Regions from separate parts of the Homo sapiens genome. Here region 2 is linked to region 1. Evidence: fine-mapped expression QTL. A gene starts in region 1. The other region holds a variant in brackets. All regions are shown on one strand. Distances are from middle to middle. Region 1 holds the start of TMEM132B (transmembrane protein 132B). Region 2 overlaps TMEM132B (transmembrane protein 132B).

Region 1 (8,339 bases):
GGCCAGGCGGCTGTCATTCTCATGACCTTGGGATCCTTGTATGGAGTCACAGTTCCCTAAAGGACTGTATGGTAGAACTCCTCTACCAGAAGAGCTCCCAGGTACAGGGTTAGAAAGTCATAGGTGAGGAGTTAAGGAGAGGGGAGCCCAGGCCTCCAATTCACTGTGTGACCCTGAACAGGCGGTCCCTGTGCCCAAGTCTCCTTCCCATCTGCCGGGGGCTGCTGAAGGAGGGGCTCTGAGGCACCCTCTTGCTCTAGAAGTCAACCCACCTACTCTGCTGAAGAGTTGGCAGCACCCCCGTCACCCACGGTACCAGGGTGCCTCCATCTCGCCACAGTGATTGCTGAGTCCCATGGCTTCAGGGGAAATGGACCCCCTCCATCCCCATTCAAATTGAGACACAGAAGAGAAGAAAGGAGCCACCCAGCCACATAGAGCTGGGAGACGCATCTGGGAACAAGGCCCCTGAAAGGGCTTTGCCGGCCCAGAGACCACCCCCACCCCAGACTCCCAGCCAACAAATGAGGGTTTTCTTTTGCTCCCTTGGATCAAGGCAACCACCGTGCTCATTGTTGGCTCTGAGTGCAGTAGCTCATGCAGAAGCCCCACGCCTCCCCAACTCCCTGCATCCGGTGGGAGGAGAGGGGATGAAATGATTTACTCTGGGAACCTCCACTGTGCAGCCATTAAATCACTGGAGAAGGCGACGACATTTGCATACCACTCCCCACCACTTCCCAATGCCACCTCTCTGAAGGGCAGCGCCACACACAGGCACCCCCCCCATCACTATTGTAATGAGAAATATACCACATGCCACACCAAGGTGCCAGGCAGGAGGAAGAGAGCCTCTGCCCTGAAAGCCAAAGCTCCCCCCTGCCACTCAATGTGGCCCCTCTGTCGTGGGGCAGGTGGGGGTGCTCCACCCACCCTGATTTCATAGACCCTAGACCCCCGTGCATAATGAGTCAACGAAGCAAGATTCGTTCATTTTCCTCAGCAGGGACTGTAACTGCACCGCTAATTTGCAAAGCCACAGCATGTACAAAAGTGGCTCGAATAATAGGGGCCCCCTAGTCGCTAAGCTGGGGGATTTGTGCTGACTCTTACCAAGTACAGTTCCATATGTTTAAGCACTTGCAAGGCTGAAAGAAGTACACCCACCCTACTCTTTACCATGGCAGCTACCCACGCAGGAAGGGGGGTGGGGGACAAAGAAGCCAGTCCCTGCGTGTGTGTGATGGGAGACAGTGTGCGCATCTTTGCCTCTGAACTCTTCCAGCCCCTCTTCCAGAGCCTCAGCCAAAGGGGGTCGGTAAACCATGGCAGAAATCACCCAGAAAATCCAACCAGCCCTGAAGGAAGCTCTGGTTAATTCCTCTGAACCTCTCAAAACCAAGTGTAGGCAGCTAAGTATCTTTCAGGAATTTCTTTTTTTCTTTTTTTTTTTTTTTTTTTTTGCCATCCCTCCTAACTAGTGCTAAATATAGAGTTATCAAACTGTCGTCTCTTTATGTCCCTGGTAGGGACCAGTTAAAGACTTGCATGTGCTTCCAGGGACGGGGCGATGGCACTGGGGGCTCTGCCCGGACGGCATTTGTCGGAACGAGCTGCCCTGCTGAGACTCTCCCAAAGAACAGCAGGGGAGCAGGCAAAGAGCCGGCCAGCAGCAGGTTTCAGTGGGAGCTCACCTTCCCTCCCAACATGGGGCCTTCCAGAGCCAGGCACAGGCTCTTCTGTTGCTGGGGGAGAGGGCGGGGGACGGGGGTGGGGGGGTGGTAGGGGGACCATCCTATTCTCTTACAAAGCATTATGCAGGCAGCTTCTCTGAGAGACTTCCGATATTCACTTATAAGCACATCCAGGCAAATGCTGACCCCCGTGGAGAAACAAAATAGAGACAAAACTGCAATTTTCAAGTCCGAGGGACTGCACTTTTGCAAACAGGTCCCAGGGCTTCAGCTAAGAGAAAACAGCCTCGGCCCCAGCAGCAGCCCCTCTCGTGGACCGCAGAGGAATGCCGAAAGCAAAACAGCTATCATAGCTGCTCCTTAGCCAAGCAGGCAAGATTCATCCACGTTAAGCCCAATGCCATTCTCTAGGCTGAACCAAAGCCGAACGCTGACGGAGATCTCCAATAGAAGGTTTTCTTCAAGTCGAAGGTGTTGGTAAATATTTTGGGTCACTTAAGGGCATCTCAAAGGAAGCCGACACTGACTTTTTCCATGCAAATAAAATACATCGAACATCAAGTTGACATGCCAGGTTTGCTCCTAACTGCAACCTTACCAAGACAGTGAAAGCCGAAAAGTTATAGTTGTATTTTTCTACTGCATTCTGCCTGTCTGTGCGATTTGTTTGTTAAGGAAATGGGGAGAGATTTTCTAAAGCAAAAGCTACCTGTTCCCAAATCATGGGTCTTGATTTTAAAAGGTTTGGAGAACTGAGATTTCAAAAGCACATGAAGGCTGCTCGTGACTGTTCCCGGGGTTCATCTGAGCCTTTAGGATTTTCTCCACTGCTTGCATGGGGTGGGGGGAGGGGAGGAATTGTCATTTTAGGATACGCTTTCTATAGAACCAACATGTAGCCACACCAAGGTGGGTAGAAAGCTTTCCAAACTCCAGCGAAGACAGACAATACCTGACTATTTTGCTTTTCCCACTCACTAGGATTGGGCGACAGCTGAGCTGGTTCAGCAGGGAGTCCAGCTCCCCGGTGCCCAGGCAATGGCTCTGGACAGCACCGCGTTCCAGGCTCCCCGGCGCGTCCTGGACTGCTTGGCCGCGGCTACCCTCTCCCGCCCGCCTTGGGGTCAGGGCGCTGGAGTAGACCGCGTTTGCAGGAGGCGCGCAGCGGGCTGCTCTTTGGCCAAGAGGAGGCCATTTGGCGAGGGTGGGTAGCTTGGGGAGGGCAGTGTGAAAGCAGGGGAGGGCCGCGGGGCGTGGGGAGGGGCTGCGGACAAGCCAGACAGCGCCGGCCGAGACATCTCCGGGGCCCGCAGGTGTCCCGGGAACGCACCACTGTGCGACCGCGGGCAGCAAGACACTGGAGAAGGGCTGCGTCGACGCCCCCGCCCAGCAAAACCCCTGGAGGAACTGGGACCTGGGGGGGATTTGGCCCAAGGCAGGGCGGGGAGGGGGCTCGATTCCTGCAGTCGCGTCCCCACCCGCCTCGAGAGGCTGAGTGCCCCGGTCTGTGGCCCCCGTGCGTCCCGAAAGGATCCGCAAGGAAGCTAAGGGTTTGGGGGAGAAGGCAGGCGGGCTCTCCCCAGGCGCTAGGCAAAGGGGAACGCGCCGGGGGCTCCTGGGTTCCCAGGGTCTCCCCAGGTCTGTCCAAGTCCGGGAGATGCGCGCTGCCAGGGACTTGAGAAGGAGGTAGCCGCCCGTTCACCCAACTTTGTGCGCCTCGGCCGGGGTCGGGGATGGGGTCCGGGGACGCGTTACCTGGGCACTGGAGCGCAGTCAGCGCCAGCAGGAGCCCGAGCGGCGGCGCCCGGCCCGGGGGCGGCATGGTCCTCGGCGCGCGGTGGGTGCGGCGCGGGGCTGCTCCTCTCGCGCGCCCGGCCCGGCCCGCGGCTCCCGGAGCAGCCCCCGGCGGCTACGCCCGGGCGCCGGGCATGGCTCGCTCCCAGCGCGCCGCTCCTCCCCAGACGCATGCGCCGGCGCTGGCGGCGCTTCCTCGGCTGCGCCTCTGCGCGCTCTCCTGGGCTCGGCCGTGCGTGGCTGGGGAGCTGGGGCGGCCGAGGCTCAGCGCCCCGCGCCCTGGCCGGCTGCCCCGCAGTTGGCCCGAGTTGCGCGGCCCCCGCCGCCGCCGCCGCCGCGGCTCCTGCGCCCCAGCGCCCGTCCCATCCCGGTCGCGCCGCCGCCGCCGCCGCCGCCTCTGCCATCGCCATCTGCCGGCCGCCCCTCGAGCCAGCGAGAGAGTGAGCGAGCGAGCGAGCGCCGGGGGGAGGAGGAGGAGGAGGAGGAGTAGGAGGAGGAGGAGGAGGAGAGGAGCGGAGGGCGGGGCCGCGGCCGGGGGAGGGGCCGCCCGGGAGCCGGGGCACAGGCGGCAGCCCGGCCAGTAGGCGGCGGGACGCGCCACTGCTCGGCGGTTCGGGGGAGGGCGCCCGGCCGGGAGGCTCCGGGAGCCCGCCGGGGGTCGCGGGCGCTCGCGGGTACAGGGGCTGCGGGAGGGGTGCGCAATGCAGAGAGGGGATGCCCAGCTAGATCCGGCGTCTTGGGGCGCAGCGGTAGGAGTTGCCAAGGTCGAGGGGTGAGGAGGCCAGCGGAGGGTCACCGGGATGGGGCAGCGACCTCTGGAGAGGTGGTGTCTGCCGGGGCCAGAGACTGCAAGACTGAGCGCGGACAGGAGGTCCCGGGTTAAATGTGGCACAGCTAGGGAGTGCCTGTGGGAGAGGGGAGAGGAGAGAGGGGAGGGCCTCCGGGAGGCCGAGGCTGTGTGCAGAGCCTCTGCACGGCACCGGGATGGGGGCTAGGGGTGCGCAGGCTGGGTGCGGTGACCTGAAACACAGCGAAGGCGGCCTGGGGATGGCCACCCGGGTGAGGCAGGGTCCCTTATTTACCCAGGCTAGAGGATGCGCCTTCCCATTTCGCGCAGGCCCTAGGAGCACGCGGAGGCAGCCAGGAGTTCTCCTGGGAAGGGCAGATTCCCTGGCGGTCCCGGGAATGAGTTCCCAGCGCAGGGTCAGGCAGTGACGGAGCGGAGGTGTTGCGCAGGGCCGGGTACTAGGTGGTCGAATTCTTCCATCCAGGGGCAGGGACGCAGCCAGAGTGCGGAGGGAGGTCACAGGTCACACGGAGCCCCAGTACCTATTATCCCAGAAACCACTGATCCTCCTGGGCGCCCCACCCCCAACCAGGGCAAAGCCACGGGGGGCTAAGCCGAATGAATGAGTCATGCTGGGAGCATGTGGGGGAGCCTCCAGCAGCGCTCAGATGCCTTCAAGCTTCCCCACCACGCTGGGAGGACAGGGGATATGGGGGGTTGCCCACCTGGGAGGGTGGCTTGGAGTCCTGGCTCCGCCCCAGCCCCCACCACACCAGCCACTTGCTCTGCCATCTCAGTTTTCCATGAAAAAGTGGGTCAAACTCTTTGAAAATGGTCAATAAGGCAGCGTGGGGTGATGAAAAGACAGATTTGGGGAAGGCTCTGGAGTCATGGAGTCTTGGCTGAGAATCCCAGCTCTGCCGCTCCTTAGCTGTGCAAGCTGGGGCGAGTCCCTTATTCCTCCCTGAGCCTCAGTTTTCTCATCTGAGAGATGGAAGGCATTGCACATCACCTGGTGTCCCCAATAACACATACAAAGCCCCTGACCTAGGAAGTCGGAACTCATTTAAAGGAGTCAGTGTCAACATTATCATTCTCATCATCATGGCCATTATTATGATAGATCTGATTTTCCTCTGCGGGCCCAGAGCTCACATCAGAAGGACAATCCTCCCCACTCCCGGCTGCCAAGAGGGGATGGGGGACAGGGCACCTGCTTGATTAGTACAGACAAGCTCATTAGCAGAGGCAGCACTCAGTTCTTCCTAGATAAAAGAAGGAAGAAAGCCAGGGGCAGGTGGTGAGTCTCCAGCCCAGGTTAATTAGGAGACGTAAAGGGATTTTCCCGTGGCTGTTAATCGGCTTCCTTTACAAGGGGCCCATGCCCAGGCCAAGCCCCCTTTGGGCTCCCTGGCAAGGCCTGCAATGTGTGGAGAGCCATACAACAGGCTGGACGACGGGATTGGGGGTCTCCTCGGGCTTAGGGTGGCCTTGCGAGGGGCCCATCTGTCCCCTTTCTGTGACCCTTTCCCCAGATAAGAGGATGATCCTGGAGACGTGGTCAGGACTCTCTTAGGGTCCTCTGTGCCCGGCTGCCCCCAACACCTCTTTCCTGTTCACTTGTTCATAAGCATCTGCAGAGCTGAGCACCTACTGTGTGCCGGCCTCTGCAGGGGATGGTGAAGCAGAAATGAATGGACGACAGCAGGGGAGAGCCACAGCAGGAGTGACCGCGGGGTGCTGGTGCCAAGGTGAACCGTGTGTTTGACCAGGAAGCAGGTCAGTGAGGCTGGGAGACTGTGGCCAAAGATAAAAGTCATTTTCTGGCAGGGTAAGGGGTCATTCTGTGGCTTTAGTGGCGGTGCTTGGAGAGGGTTGTGAATCAGTCCAGCAAGTCCCCAAGCCAGTGGTCACACAGTCCCAGGTGTGATGGCAGATGGCAGTTGCCTTCCCCCCAACCCCACACTCAGGACTACCTGGTCATACTCCAAGAAAGCACCTTTCAGTGGGGAAGGGCACTTCCCCATTAAAATATGCTGATGGTGGTTGAGCCAGACGCTGAAGAGAGGAATCTCCTTTTGAGGGTAGCTTTTCCATGCCCCAGCTGTGTGACTCTGGACAAGCCCCTAATCCTCTCTGAGCTCATACGTGGGGTAGGGATGAGAATTCCAGCCTGGCTCAGCCTGTCTTGTGGTTGGATGAGGATTTCTGCATATTAACCATGCCCCTAAGCCTGTATCTCTAAAGGGGGTGTTTCTGGAGGAAATAAGCAGGGGAAAAAAGCCTCCCTGGATTCTGAAGGGCGGGGGGGAATCTGAGAGGCTGGCGGCAGTAACGAGGAGACCCCAGGGCTGAGCGGAATTCTCCTCTCACTCCTACCTAGACTCTCGCCCCCAGCCTGCTGGCCTCATAGCCTGGGCAGGACCGTAAGAATTACACAGCCTACAATCTCCCCCTAAGTATAGATGGGATACTGAGTCCAGGAATTGTCCTTCTCCTGGATCTGTAAGTGTGGGGAGGCCGACTCGACTAACAGCCAGCCTCGAGCCCCAGCATAGCCATGCAAGGCTTCCTCAGGCCGCACCACCCCCTGCACAGCAAGAGACTGCCTCCAGCACGGATTGCTCCCGGTCCGTCCCCGCACCCCAGTTCTGCTGCAGCTCAGCCCACGCGCCCGCCGGGCTACCGGCGAAGAGCAACATTGCCATCTCGTGGCTGAAACTGGAACTGCAGGTCTGGAGGGCGCTGCAGAAGGAAGGTCAGGGTGGGGGTGCGGGTAGGGGTGAGATGGAGGCGAATAGGCAGAGAGGTTTCCCCACCTCAGCCAACTGGCAGCGGCAATAACAGACCCCTTTGCCCTTGAACGCCAACACGCAGGCAGCTGCTGCCGTGGTGACCACCCGTTGAAATTCTTTGCAAAGCCTGGGACTGTTTGTTGTCCATTGCACACATCGATGTTTCTGGCATGTTCAGGGAACACAGAATTGACTTAGATTGCATTTGCACCACAGGTGAGTGGTAGGGGAAAGGGGCCTCTCAAAATAGAAGCCAAGCTCACTTATACAGGTAATCAAGGATTTACTAAGAATAAAGAATTTCAAGAAATCAGTTACTTGCACACCTGGACATATGGACCCATGATGGAAGGAAGGAGCCTCTTTATGGCAACTTGCAGTCATCCATATCACTCTCTGTCCCCTCCCCTGCTTTGTTCTTCTTCGTAACAGTGGCTACCACCCAGCATCATATGTACAGAGAGTGGCCCAATCAGTCCTGGTTATATTAATGTATGAATGAAAGGAGCTCAGGGCTGGACAGTACAGTAAGCACTGAGCCCTGGGATGTGAGCCCATGAACACTCAGACCAGGAAGGACTTGACTTCCCTTCCAGGTCCACTCCCAACTGGGAGGAGGCCACAGGGGAGAAATGGCTTTCTGGTGTGTTTGAGCAGAAAGCACCTTGAAGAGCTCTGACCCCTGGCTTCCCAGGATAAAATGATTCCTGGACCGGCAGGGGCTGGGAAGGGTGTGAGGTGGCAGCCAGGGGTGAAGGCACCATCGGGATGGGATTTTGGAGCAAGTGTAAAGTGTGCTAGAGCAGAACAAGACTAATAACAAATAATAATGATAATAATAAATAATGATGCATCATTGAATACATACCAGACACTGCTCGAAGCAGTTTGCACGTGTGTTGGTTTTTAATGGTGGTAAAATGCACATAACATGAAATTTACCATTTTAATCACTTTAAAGTGTACAATTCAGTGGCACTTAGTACATTCGCAGTGCTATGCAACCATCACCACTCTCCAGTTCCAGAACTTTTTCATCACCCAACCAGAAACCTGGTACCCAATCACTCCCCATTCTCCCCTCCCTTCCACCCTTAGCACCCACCAGACTACTTTCTGTCTCTATGAATTTGACTGCTCCACTAACTAATTTAAGTGGGATCATACAGTGTGTGATCTTTTGTGTCTGGCTTCTTTCACTCAGCATCGTGTCTTCAAGGTTCATCGACGTCGTACCCTGTCAAAGCTTCACTCCTTTTTATGGCTGAC
Region 2 (8,339 bases), 180 kb before region 1:
ACACCCCGGGTCCCTCGGATGCCCTCCTTCCTCCCTGTCTCTTCCCAGCTGTGATGATTAATATTAAGCGTCAACTTGATTGAAGGATTGTCTCTGCATCTATCTGGGTGTTTCTGGGTGTTGCTAGAAGAGATTAACATTTGAGTCAGAGTCAATGGACTCAGAAAGACCCACCCTCAATGTGGGTGGTCACCATCCAATCAGCTGCCAGTGTGGCTAGAGAAAGCATGCAGAAGGTAGAAGGAGCTGACTTGCTGAGGCTTCTGGCCTTCATCTGTCTCCTGTGCTGGATGCTTCCTACCCTCGAACATCAGACTCCAGGATTTTTGGCTTTTGGACTCTTGGACTTACACCAGTGACTTCCCAGGAGCTCTCAGGCCTCTGGCCACAGACTGAAGGCTGCACCATCAGCTTCCCTACTTTTGAGGCTTTGGGACTCAGAATAAGCCACTACTGGCTTCCTTGCTCCTCAGCTTGCAGATGGCCTATCTGCAAGTCAATCCTCCTTCATAAACTCCCTGTCATATATCCATATATCCTATTAGTTCTGTCCCTCTAGAGAACCCTAATACACCAGTCAAACATTGGAACAACGTAGAAAGACATTGCCTTTCCTGTTTCCATCAACTCACATGTGTCAGACAATGCTAATTACTCACCCAATATCCATTACCCATTTCTTCCCTATCAAGAAAACCCTGAAATTGGCCGGATGCGGTAGCTCATGCCTATAATCCCAGCACTTTGGGAGGCTGACGCGGGAGGATTGCTTGAGTCCAGAAGTTAGAGACCAGCCTGGGTGACAGAGCAAGACCCCCATGTCTATTTAAAAAAGAAAGAAGGAAAACCCTGATGGGGGGAGAAGGGACTGCCCAGATGCCCAGTTAAATACCTACAATTCCCTACCTCACTACAGGATGGCCTTGATTGTGAGAACAGTTCTGGCTATTAAGCAACAGTCAAAAGATGTTGGTTGACAATTCCAGGAATGTTCCTTAAAGAAGGGCAGACTTGGATGCACGTGATGTTTTGCTCCTCTCTCTCCTTTCTCCCTTCTGAGTGAAATATAGATGTGATGACTACAACTGCAGCGGCTATCTTGTGACAGTGAGGGAAAGAACAACATAATCATAAAATCCTTGATACTCTAACATTCTTGATCCACCAAACCAATACCTACCTGTGGACATTCCTGCCTTTCCTTAAATAGATGCCTGTCTTGGTGACCTCAGTGTTCTTTGGGGTTCCTACCACATGCAGCCGATCTTAAGCCACAACAGGGATTAACTTCACAGATCACTCATCCCCAAGCCCCTCCAGTCTGGCTTTTATTTCCAGGAGTTCATTCAATATCTTTTTTATTTTTGAGATGGAGTCTCACTCTGTCGCCCAGGTTGGAATGCAGTGGCACAATCTTGGCTCGCTGCAACCTCCTCCTCACTGGTTCAAGTGATTTTCCTACCTCAGACTCCCGAGTAGCTGGGATTACAGGTGCCCACCACCACACCCGGCTGATTTTTGTATTTTTAGTAGAGACAGGGTTTCACCATGTTGGCCAGGCTGGTCTCGAACTCCTGACCTCAGGTGATCCGCCACCTCCGCCTTCCAAAGTGCTGGGATTACTGGCATAAGCCACCACGCCCGGCCCATTAAATATCTTATTAAAGTTACCAATGACCTCCATAGGTAAAAATGCAAGGAATAATTTTCATTTCCCCTGCTTGAGCTCTCAGCAGGATTCAACTCTGCTGACTTTCTGTGGTTTTCAGTCTCTTCCACTGGCTTGTGTGATATCATATTCTCTTGGTTTCTCCACTTCTCTGGCTGACATTTTTAAGTCTCATCTTTGTCATTTATCAACCTATCAAATGTTGGAGTCCTTCAGGATTCATTCAAGAGCTCTTTTTTCTTCTCATGATTTTTACTGAAAAAAATCTCATCCTTTCCAAGGCTTCAGTTATTATTATCAAACTGCCAAACACACCTAAATTTGTATTTCCTACCATTTGACCCAGCCATCCCATTACTGGGTATATACCCAAAGGATTATAAATCATGCTGCTATAAAGACAAATGCACATGTATGTTTACTGCAGCACTATTCACAATAGGAAAAACTTGGAACCAACCCAAATGTTCATCAGTGATAGACTAGATTAAGAAAATGTGGCACATGTACACCATGGAATACTATGCAGCCATAAAAAAGGATGAGTTCATGTCCTTTGTAGGGACACGGATGAAGCTGGAAACCATCACTCTCAGCAAACTATCGCAAGTACAGAAAACCAAACACCACATGTTCTCACTCATAGGTGGGAATTGAACAATGAGAACACCTGGACACAGGGTGGGGAACATCACACACCGGGGCCTGTCATGGGGCCGGGGGAGGGGGGAGGGATAGCATTAGGAGATATACCTAATGTAAATGACGAGTTAATGAGTGCAGCACACCAACATGGCACATGTATACATATGTAACAAACCTGCACGTTGTGCACATGTACCATAGAACTTAAAGTATAATTTAAAAAAATCATGACAGGAACAACACCTCACATGTTTTATTCCTGTCATGGAACAAATTGAATGTAAAAAAAAATTGTATTTCCAAGCAAGACACAGGGAAGAGATGTTGTTACCTAAAAGCCCAGGAACTAGGACCATCCAGTGGGAGCTAAATTCCTGGCAGGGTCTATTCCTGAGGAGCATGTGTCCTATAGGAACAAAGCTATGGAGGATACGCAGCCTCTGACAGAGACATATCAGGAAGCAGAGCAAGAGGGAAGTTCTCTACTTTCTCTACCTTTTCCCATCCTAGTCTTCCACTGCTGCCTCCCACTGGGCAAATCCATGCAAAAAAGGAAATCATGACTCCATACAAATGTAAATTAAACAATGAATAAATAAAAATTTGATGAGGGGTGGAATGTGTACATAATATCACATAGTGACACCCCACAAAATTCTTATTAACGGCAAAGAGAAAAGCAGTAACTTCACAGTTGAAACTACTGGCAGATACCACCTTAATTATGTAATTAAAGTGAACCTCAACAGTAATGAGACAAATTAAAATTATGCACAACCTCATAGGATGCAACAAGAACACAGTATCATTTCTGTGGCATTAATGCAACAGATGCATAACCTGAATCTAATCATGAGGAGACAGCAGACAAACCCAAATTAAGAGACCATCTACAAAATATCTGTCATCTTAAAAGTGCCAAAACAAAACATATATAGATATCAAATATATGAAAATAGCACAAAGATGTGGAGAATGGACTATACTGTGGTAAAGTAACTATACTTACCTAGAGAAATAACATGTCAACTCTAATTAGATGATGATAAATTTAAAGATATATACTATGATCCCTAGAGCAATCACTTAAACATGCAAAGAGATATAGCTAAAAAGCCAATAGATTAATTAAAATCAAATACTAATATTTGATAACACAATAGATTAATCAAGAAAGAAGGAATAAAGAAAAAAACTAAGATGAGAAAAATAAAAAATAGCAGACCTAATTCCAACCACATCAATAATTACATTAAATATAAATGAACTAAATCTATTTCTGGTAATGGTTGAGTGAGATACTAGAGTTGGTCCTACGTAAACTCTAGACATAATTTTTAAAGTAGCTATCCAAAGGCACTAGAGAGTAAACAAAAACAGGAAGATCATGGAGGGGAGTCCATACTCAGAGGAAGACCCACTCTGAGGAAGAATTTCCCCCATTTTTGTCACATTTAGCCTGGAGAATAATGCAGTTATTATTGTAGGATGCAGAGAGAGCATCAACCTGGAAAAAAATGCAGTTGGGATTGGGAGGTAGGGAACCACAGGACTGAGTCCAAGATGGCAGCTAAAGAGAGATGAGAGAGTCATGGAAGAGAAAGAGAGAATGCTCAAATTCTACCTGTCAATATCTCTGGTTGAATATTGAATCTTGTATATGCAGATCAGTCTCAAAGCATGTCAGCTAAAGATAAAAGATCCATACTGAGATTGTACTTATGATCCAAGAAAGAGATCTGCAGTTTGACTACAACAAAATTAATTGCCTGCTGAAACAAAAGAAACAACACTTACTGGAAAATCAAAAATAAGAATCCAGAGTCTTCACAACTTAGCATTCATAATATTCAAGATACAATAAAAAATTGTCCAAAATATGAAGATTTTTAAAAATGAGACCCATTCCAGAGTGAAAAGACAATCAACTGAAACCAACCTGAGGATGACCCAGATGTTAGAATTACCAGAAGAGCATTTTAAAGTTGCTAATTACAACTGTCATCAGTGATGTAAAAGAAAATACGCTCTTAATGAATAAAAAGCCATGAAAACTCAGCAAACAAATAAAAATGACAATAAAAGAACAAAATGGAAAGTCTAGATCGAAAACTACAATAGCTAAAAGTAAAATTGCACTGGTGGACTTAATACCCAAATAAAGATGACAGGAGAAAGAATCAATGAATTTGAAGATAAATCAATGGAATTATTCAATGTAAAATGAGTGAGAAAAAAGACTGAAGAAAATGAACAGAGACTCAGAGGCCTGTTAGATAATAATAGATAGTCTAGTATATGTGTAATTGACATTCCAGATGCAGAGGAGTAAGGAAATGAGGCAGAAATGAATATTTTAATAAATAATGACTGAAACTCTCCCAAATTTGATAAAAGACATAAATGTACAAATTTAACTACACAACAAACCCAAGGCAGGATAAACATTTAAAAGTCCATACCTCTGCACATTGTAGCTAAACCGTTGAAAGGCAAAGATGATGAGCAAATCTTAAAAGCAGCAAAAGAACAGCAACACATCACCTACAGGTGACTGATTCATTAATGGCTGACTTCTTATCAGAAATTATGGAGGTCAAAAGCAAGTGAATCAAAACATCTCACCATCTCACCCCAGTTAAAATGGCACTATCAAAAAGACAATAAAAAAAATAACAAATGCTGGTGAGGATGCTGAGAAAGAGGAACACTCCTACATTGTTGGTGGGTAATCATCATATCAAAGAGATATCTGCACTCCTGCGTTTACTGCAGCACTATTCACAGTAGCCACAA[T/C]ATGGAATCAACCTAAGTGTCCATCAATGGATGAACGAATAAAGAAAATGTGCTGTGTACACACACACACACAGCAATATTATTCAGCCATAAAAAGAATCAAATCCTGTCATTTGCAGCAATGTGGGTGGAACTGGAAGCCATTATGTTAAGTGTTAAATAAGCCAGGCACAGAAAGACAAATATCACATGTTCTCACTAACATATGACAGCTTAAAAAAAAAGAAAGTGGGCCTCTTGGAGGTAGAGAGTAGAATGAAGGTTCCCAGAGGCTGGGAAGGGAAGTGGGAAGGAGAGGGATGAGAAGTTGATTAACGGATACAAAAATACAGTAGATGGAAGGAAATAGTTTTAGTATTCAATAGTAGAGTAGGGAAATTATAGTTAACAATAATTTATTATATATTTCCAAATAGCTAGAAGAGAAGAATTCTAATGTTCCCAACACAAAGAAAAATGTTTGAGGTGATGGATATGCCAATTACCCTGATTTGATAATTACACATTTTATACATGTATCAAAATATCACATCTGCCCAAAAATATGTACAACTATAATATAATTTTTAAATCAAGTAGAACAATATCTTTAAAATGCTGAAAGAAAAAAACTGCCAACTCAGAACTCTACAAATAGCAAAAAAAAATCTTCTGGAATAAAAATGAAATAAAGGATTTTCAGATAAAAGAGACTAAAGGAATTTATTGCCAGTAAATATGTACTTCAAAAAATTGCCAAGAGAAGTCATACATGCTGAAGGGAAATAACAACAAATGAAAACTTAGATCCCCAGAAAGGAATGAAGAACATCAGAAATGGCAAAATCTGGATAAATGCAAAAGGCTACTATTGCTTTTTCTTCCTAATGTCTTTATAATACATATAACTATTTAAAGTAAAAGTTATAATATTCTCTTCGAGGGTTTTTAACATATATCTATGTAATTATACAAAGTAACATTAACATAAAGGACATGGGATGGTTAAGTGGACCTACTATCTACATTTTATGGAAAGTCTATCTCAAAATAGACTGTGAAAAGTTAAGCATGTATATGGTAATTTCTGAAGCAACTACTAAAAATATAATGCAAGAAAGTGCAGCTAAAAAGCCTATATAAAAGTTAAACTAGAATTCTTAAAAGTATGCAAATAATGCCCAAAAAAAAAGCAGGAAAAGAAGAACAGAGGAATACCAAACAAAAAGAAAAAGAGAAACCAAATAATAAAGTGGTAACCCCAAATCTGGTAACATTAGTAATTACATTAAATATTAATAGACTAGCACATTAATGAAATTACATATTAAATATTAATGAAATAAGCATACTAATTAAAATACAGATTATCAAAACAGATAAAAAATACAAGACACAAGTGTATGCTATCTACAAGAGGCACATTTTAAGTATAAAGATACAGATAAGTGAATTTGGCAAGGTTACAGGATACAACCTCAGTACACACAAAAAAATCAACTGTATTGCTATATCCTATCAACAAAACATCTTAAAATGAAAATAAAATCAAGTCAATTTATAATATTAAAATATAAAATACTAAGAAATAAAGTTAACAAGGGATGTGCAAGATCTGTACAATGAAAACTACAAAGCATAGCTGAAGATAATCAAAGGAGATATAAATAAATGAGGAAATATACCATGTTCTTATATCGGAAGACCCAACATTGTTACAATGGTAATTCTCCATAAATTGATCTCTATAGTCAATGTAATTCCAGTCAAAATCACATAAATATCAAATCCTAGCTAATAATGTACATACTAAGCTATTTATAAGGAAGTGAACAAATGTCTGCAAACTACTTTTAAACACATCAGAAAATAAGATGGATTGATGGATGAAGAGATAGATTGATAGATATGTAGTAAAGTAAGAACAGTAAAATATTAATGGTAGAATCTAAGTGGTGGGTATATGGATTCTCACAATACATTTCTTTTAACTTTGTCATGTTTAAAATTTTTCAAAATAAAATATGGGAAAATATAAAATATTTCCAATATGTAAAAGAGTATGGAGAGGAATAAAATGAAAACCCATGTCTCCCACCAACTAGATTAACAGATAAAACATGCAGATACAGTTGAAGTTCCCTAGACACCCTTCAACCTTTGTTCTTCCCCAGAGATAACCAGTCCCTTGATTGGTGTTTATGATGTCCACATATATGCATGACCAAACAGGAATGTGTTTATATACAACAAATAGAATTATGAATATATTGCACGTTTTAAACTGTATGCTACTGTAGATATAAGCTAATAATTTGCTTTGTTCTTCCACTTAGCCTCAAATCTTGGGGATTTATCCAAGAATGGAGACATGAATTTATTTTCATATCTGTAGAGCATTCATCCGTATAAATATGTAGCTATTCATTTATCCACTTTCCTCTAATGAATATTTCTATTAAACCATCTCAAGATGTGGCCTCTCTGAGCCTAGCATAGTAGTGAGATGCTCAGATTCTGGGCATGGGAAGACCTGAGTCCAAACCCTAGCTTCTTGGTTTTGTGGATTTGAGGAAGTCACTTATCTTTCTAAGCCTCAGTTTCCTCATGTAACAGGTAAGGATGCTCATTCTGCTACCTCTGAAGATCATTGAAAAGAAGTACATAAGACGGATGGATAAAAAGCACATAGCAAAGTGCCTGCCACACACACACTCAATATTCTGAGTCTGAAACACAAGGAATAGAAAGTCCTAGGGGTGCCACCAACCCTATTTCACTCAGGCCCAAAAAACACTACTAGGCACTGAAAACTGCCAGCTCTATCTCATAGGGTTAAATTTCCAACGGGGAGGCAGACCCCACACTGCTTGCCCCTAGACCTTCACTCTCAGCCTGGGAAACATCATGCAAAGCCATAAAGGTGGTTTAGGCTGGATCCAGGCAGCTTCCTTCTTTACCGCTGTGCTAACACACCACTGTACCCATCAGGGCTTCAGAAGGTCTCATGAAGGGACTATTCACAGAGGTATAGGCAGGGTTGTGGGGATCAGTAAGGGATGGTGAAACATCCTGGGGCTGGCAACTCTGGGGACCCTTGTTCAATTGAGCCTTCATTTTTTAACTTTATTTACACTTAAGTTTAAAACTGGTACTTTATAGATGGTAAAGTTAGGATTTGAGCCAGCAAACTGGCTCCAGGCTCCAAGCTCTGAGCCACTCTACCCTGCTGCCTCGACCCCAGAGAAAT

The links.
Region 2: its variant is fine-mapped to the expression of TMEM132B in atrial appendage (GTEx, PIP above 0.99).

What each region holds. Positions count from the first base shown.
Region 1 is chr12:125,181,977-125,190,315 of GRCh38, reverse strand. TMEM132B (transmembrane protein 132B) reads right to left here and starts at 3,930. Exons shown (of 9, transcript NM_001366854.1): 1 at 3,450-3,930. The coding sequence starts at 3,516. RefSeq lists a silencer at 3,938-4,147 and an enhancer at 4,196-4,729.
Region 2 is chr12:125,363,076-125,371,414 of GRCh38, reverse strand. The region is part of intron 2 of TMEM132B (transmembrane protein 132B); the gene reads right to left. Among named protein-coding and RNA genes, the nearest start is that of TMEM132B, 180 kb to the right of the region's middle. The variant T/C (reference allele first, on the strand shown) is at 5,111.